2 separate regions of the Homo sapiens genome follow, and region 1 is linked to region 2. A link means that fine-mapping ties the variant in region 2 to the expression of a gene that starts in the linked region. Tissue or cell type: subcutaneous fat. Region 2 holds a variant in brackets; the other region holds the start of a gene. All regions are shown on one strand. Distances are from middle to middle. Region 1 holds the start of THSD7B (thrombospondin type 1 domain containing 7B). Region 2 overlaps THSD7B (thrombospondin type 1 domain containing 7B).

The links. PIP is the estimated chance that this variant, and not a neighbour inherited with it, causes the effect.
Region 1: it holds the start of THSD7B, and the variant in region 2 is fine-mapped to the expression of THSD7B in subcutaneous fat (GTEx, PIP 0.94).

The regions. Positions count from the first base shown.
Region 1 is chr2:136,763,918-136,766,823 of GRCh38, forward strand. It overlaps THSD7B (thrombospondin type 1 domain containing 7B), which reads left to right and starts at 1,628. Exons shown (of 28, transcript NM_001316349.2): 1 at 1,628-1,770. RefSeq lists an enhancer at 1,610-2,111.
Region 2 is chr2:136,911,731-136,914,636 of GRCh38, forward strand. All of the region lies in intron 2 of THSD7B (thrombospondin type 1 domain containing 7B), which reads left to right. Among named protein-coding and RNA genes, the nearest start is that of THSD7B, 150 kb to the left of the region's middle. The variant C/T (reference allele first, on the strand shown) is at 1,455.

The DNA.
Region 1 (2,906 bases), 150 kb before region 2:
GTTGGCAGCTGATTTATTTTTAAGACAGTGATGTCAGGAAAAAAAAAAAGCATAACCCAGAATGTGACTGTAGTGGGAGAATAGCGATTGCTGTTTAAAATATTAAGTAAGGCTTCCCTGCTTTCAGAACCCATCATCCCACAGCAAGCTGAGTTGAAGCCCCTTACCAATATATTCACATCTTTCTTTACAATGGCACTTACATTCTTTTGATTTCTTTTTATCTGTGACAGATCCTAGCTTCTCTATTTATCTCTTGAATCTAATTTGCTCTATGACATCAAGCTTTAATTTTATCATTATTATTTTGCTTCATTTTAAGCACCCATGGTGTGCCAGGCATTGGATAAAATAGAAAAGATACAATCCCTGCTGTCGCTGGGCTCACACATTTAAAGAGATTTGACAGGCAAAATATCCTGTAATTGGCAATAGGTAGTCCTCATGCTTCCCCCCGCCCCTTCTCCCTTTTGAAGCAACTTCATCTCTCTGAACAAGCTTAAGAAGTTCCCTAGATCAAAGGTGTCAAAAACCAGAAGGGTTTGGAACAAGTGTCAGAGAGTAAGCAAACGACTTTCTGAGCTGTGACTCTGCTCCTCGACTGCCCACGTGCTCTCCGCTGTCTGCACTCCTGCCTCACCTGGGCTGACTCGGACTCTCCACCTCCTTTGCTGCTTCCGGCATGAGCTACCCAGGAGCCTAAGGCGCTCCTTCCCGCAACTCCGGTCCCCGCGCCCCGGGACTGCAAATCCTTTAAACAGAGGCCCCAGAGCTAGGGGTTTTCCCAGGCTCTGGTGGGCGTGGGCTGACAGTCGCTGGGAGCCCCGCAACAGGGGGGATGTCCAGGCAGGTATGCACCCAGCTCCCGGCGTTTCCCGGAGTCACCACAATGTTTCCCTTTCTCTCTCCCCCACGTATGCTGCTAGGGGTACTCCCCAGATAGGATTTTCTTTGTCTTTTCTCCTAGTAACACCGAAGCCCTCTCGTGCCCGGGGACTGCAGAGGAACGCCAGACCATCCGGACCTTGCGGGATGGCTCGGTGTGTGTGTTTTACTGTGTGTCGGAGTGTCGCGCATGTGTGCGTGTTGGGGCGCGTTATCAACAGGGGCCTAGGGCACCCCCACTCTTTCTTGCTCTCTTCCCCCATCACTTCATGGACCTCCGAGGCGCAAAGCGCTCGACCCTCTCCTGGGCTCAGTGGCTTGGGTACTCCGGGCTGAGCTCAGCTGGGGAGTCCCCTTACCCAGCCCGCACCGGCACCCCGAAGCTTCAAAGTTGCGGCAAACAGTTGCGGGGAGCAGAGGAACTGAGGTCCAGGCCAGCGCGCCCGCGGTCGCTCGCCTTGGGGAGCAGGCTGAGCCGAGGGTCGTGCGGGTGCGCGGCAGAGGCGGTAGGAGGCGGAGGAGAGGGGGGAGAAAGAGGGGGCGGTGGGGAACAGCTGCCGGGGTAGGCGAGGCGCAAGGTGGCTCCCCGCGGCCCCGCGCCCCGCGGCTCTCGGACGCACCAGGCAGCCAATGGCTGCGCAGAGGTGTACAGCAGATGGCGTCTGACTGCGCCGTTCCTTCCTCCTCCTCCTCCTCCTCCTTCTCTTCCTCCTCCTCCTTCTCTTCCTCCTCCTCCTCCTTCAGTGCTGAGGAGCCAGAGTCGCCGCCGGGTTGCCAGACGCTGGAATGGGTGGTCTTCCGACACACACCACCATCTTTCTTGCGCTCGGGAAGCTCGGGGCTCAGCGGCTCCCAGAGGTTACGGCGGCGGCTCTGGCGAGACGGGTGAGTGCAAGCACGCGGAGCCCCGAGTCGGGGATGCCGGGCCCCCTGGCCGGCCGACTGGGGCGCGGGGTGGCAGCGCCGGGGAAGGGGGCGCGCTGCCGGCGCAGACTTTGCTCTTTCCTCGCCGGACAGCCATCGTCGCCCCTTCTCCCAGCCAGACGCGGGAACTTGGAAGCGGATCTTCTCGGACGCCTCTGGCTTGGGGCTGCGGGAAGCGTGGGCTGCCCGGGGCGCAGTGTGCGGAGACCCTCTAGGCGGGCGGGGACGCCCCACGCGGCGACCTGAGCACCGACCTCATGCAACGGGACCGAACCTTGGGACCCGGGCAGCAGGAGCTCTGTTCCCTTCACCTCCAGCTTGGTTTGAGGGATACTGATGAAGGAAACCGGGGGTTTCCCGTCCTGCGCGGAGAGCCTCGGCGCCCAAAATCGAAAGGCCGGGAGTTGTTCTGCAGGCTTTGCAAACAGGTTGACTGAGGGTTTCCTTTCCCGTAGCGCTGACTGCGAAATCTGTGCATAGGCGTTCAGTGCCAGTGGAGGATAGCTGAGCAAGCCAAGAAGTTTTGCAGCTTCCTCTGATTTATCGGTGGAGTGTCAGGAGGCTGTAGCAACAGTTTACATTTCCCCTGTCCCTGCGAGTGGCTAGGGGCAAGCTGGGCTCGGACGTGATATCCTGCTGTTTGTGGAGAGGAAACTGGGAACGGGGCTTGAGAGTGAGGGGCAGGGAGGGGGGGACAGGCATATTTTCTACTGCATCGCCCATCTGCACCTGTCCCCTTTGCTGTCTTACATGTCCCATAGTATTAAAGTTATTTGAATAAGCAAATGAACCCCGCTCTTTGGTGACCGCGTATTTTGAAGTTGGAAAACTTTGCAGGGGACGAGGGAATGTTGAGGAGGGGGCGTTAAGCTCTCTCACTCTATCCCTTTTTAAAGACAAGAAAAAAACTTTCGTTGGCGAAGGTGGTACTTTTTTCTTTTGGAATGTCTGAGCTCAGAGCTTCCCATAAGAGGTATTGCGATTCAATACTGTACAGTCAAGGTGAAGTTCCACTAAGATTATGGGACCGTGGCATATTCTACGGAAGATACCAGGGTTCCTTGGCGCTCTGTTCATTGCCAGGGTGGTCTGCTGAA
Region 2 (2,906 bases):
CTCATTCAAATCACAGTTTCTTTAATAATGCATGCCATGCTACTACTACTACAAGAGAGCGCTTTACAGCCACCAAATCCTACGGATATATTTGAATTAGTTAAATTCCAAATTTCTAGACATATGCTTTAATTCCTTCTTCCTTTCCATCTACTCCATGGTTGATAGCTAGATGAGGGGAGGGACAGATGGATAAATGGATAGATGGATGGATGGATGAATAGCAGGTCTGTGCATTACTGATGGATTGATGGGCTGTTGGATAGCGGAATGCAGGAAGGGAAAGAGGGAGGAAGAAAGGAGGGGCCAGGTGCAGTGGCTCATGTAATCCCAGCACTTTGGGAGGCCAAGGTGGGCAGATCACCTAAGGTCAAGAGTTCTAGACCAGCCTGGGCAACATGGCACACATGGCAAAACCCCATCTCTACTAAAAATACAAAAATTAGCCGGGTGTGCTGGTGGGCGCCCATAATCCCAGCTAGTCATGAGGCTGAGGCAGGGAAATTGCTTGAACCTGGGAGGTGGAGGTTGCAGTGAGTTGAGATAGTGCCACTGCACTCCAGCCTGGGTGACAGAGCGAGACTCCATCTCAAAAAAAAAAAAAAAAAAAAAAAAAAAGGAGAGAGGAACTTAAAAGGTTTAACACAGTGGTATGTGTGCGAGACTCCCTCTCAAAAAAAGGAGGGAGAAACTAAAGGGTTTAACACAGTGGTATGTGTGCTTTCCTGCTGTGTTACTCTGGGCAGTTGATTCAAGCTCTATTTGCTTTGGTTTTATCACCTGTAAATAGGTCATAATAATATTATTAATTGTTATGGTTTAGCTGTGCCCCCAGCCAAATCTCATCTTGAATTGTATCTCCCAGAATTCCCACGTGTTGTAGGAGGGACCCAGTGGGAGGTAATTGGATTATGGGGGCCAGTTTTTCCCCTGCTATTCTTGTGATAATGAATAAGTCTCACAAGATCTGATGGGTTTATCAGGGGTTTCTGCTTTTGCTTCTTCCTCATTTTCTCTTGGTGCTGCCATGTAAGAAGTACCTTTCACCTCCTGCCATGATTCTGAGGCCTCCCCAGTCATGTGGAACAGTAAGTCCAATTAAACCTCTTTTTCTTCCCAGTCTCAGATATGTCTTTACCAGCAGCATGAAAATGAACTAATACAGTAAATTGGTACCAGTAGAGTGGGGCGTTGCTGAAAAGATACCCAAAAATGTGGAAGCGACTTTGGAACTGAGTAACAGACAGAGATTGGAAGAGTTTGAAGGGCTCAGAAGATAGGAAAATGTAGGAAAGTTTGGAGCTTCCTAGAGACTTGTTGAATGGCTTTGTGCCAAATGCTGATAGTGATATGGACAACAAAAATGAAGGCTGAAGTGGTCTCAGATGGAAATGAGGAACTTTTTGGGAACTGGAGCAAAGGCGACTCTTGTTTCATTTTAGCAAAGAGACTAT[C/T]GGCATTTTGCCCCTGCCCTAGAGATTTGTGAACTTTGAACTTGACAGAGATGATTTAGGGCATCCGGTGGAAGAAATTTGTAAGGAACAAAGCATTCAAGAGGTGACTTGGGTACTGTTAAAGACATTCAGTGTTAAAAGGGAAATAGAGCATAAAAGTTCAGAAAATTTGCAACCTGACTATGCAATGGAAAAGAAAAACTCACTTTCTGGGGAGAAATTCAAGCCAGCTGCAGAAACTTAACGTAAGTAGCAAGGAGCCTAATGTTAATCCCCAAGACCAAGGGGAAAATGTCTCCAGGCCATGTCAGAGGCCTTCATGGCAGCCCCTCCCATTGCAGGCCTGGAGGCCCAGGAGGAAAAAGTGGTTTCATGGGCCAGGCCCAGGATCCCCATGCTGCATGCAGCCTAGGGACTTTGTGCCTTGTTTCCCAGCCTCTCCAGCCATGGCTGAAGGGAGCCAATGTACAGCTTGGGCTGGGGCTTCAGAGGGTGGAAGCCCCAAACCTTGGCAACTTCCATGTGGTATCAAGCCTGTGGGTACTCAGAAGTCAAGAATTAAGGTTTGGAAACCTCTGCCTAGATTTCAGGAGATGTATGGAAACACCTGGATGCCCAGGCAAATTTTGCTGCAAGGGCAGGGCCCTCATGGAGAACCTCTGCTAGGGCAGTGCAGAAGGGAAATGTGGGGTTGGAGCCCCCATGCAGAGTCCCTAGTGGGGTACTGCCTAGTGGAGCTGTGAGAAGAGGGCCACCATCCTCCAGACCCATGAATTGTAGATCCACTGACAGCTTGAACCATGCATCTGGAAAAGCCACAGACACTCAACACCAGCCCATGAAAGCAGTCGGGAGGGAGGCTGTACCCTTTAAAGCCACTGGGGTGGAGCTGCCCAAGACCATGGGAACCCACCTCTTGCATCAGCGTAACCTGGATGTGAGACCTGGAGTCAAAGGAGATCATTTTGGAGCTTCAAAATTCAACTGCCCCACTGGATTTCGGACATACGTGGGCCCTGTAATCCCTTTGTTTTGGCCAATTTCTCCCATTTGGAATAGCTGTATTTACCCAATACCTGTACCCTCATTGTATCTAGAAGTTAGCTAGCTTGCTTTTGATTTTACAGGCTCATAGGCAGAAGTGACTTGTCTCAGATGAGACATTAGACTATGGCCTTTTGAGTTAATGCTGAAATGAGTTTATACTTTGGCAGACTGTTGGGAAGGCATGATTGGTTTTAAAATGTGAGGACATGAGATTTGGGAGGGACCAGGGTTGGAATGACATGGTTTGGCTGTGTCCCCACCAAAATCTCAACTTGCATTGTATCTCCCAGAATTCCCACATTTTGTGGGAGAGACCTGTTGGGAGGTAATTGAATCATGGGAGCCCGTCTTTCCCCTGCTGTTTTCGTGATAGTGAATAAGTCTCATGAGATCTGATGGGTTTAT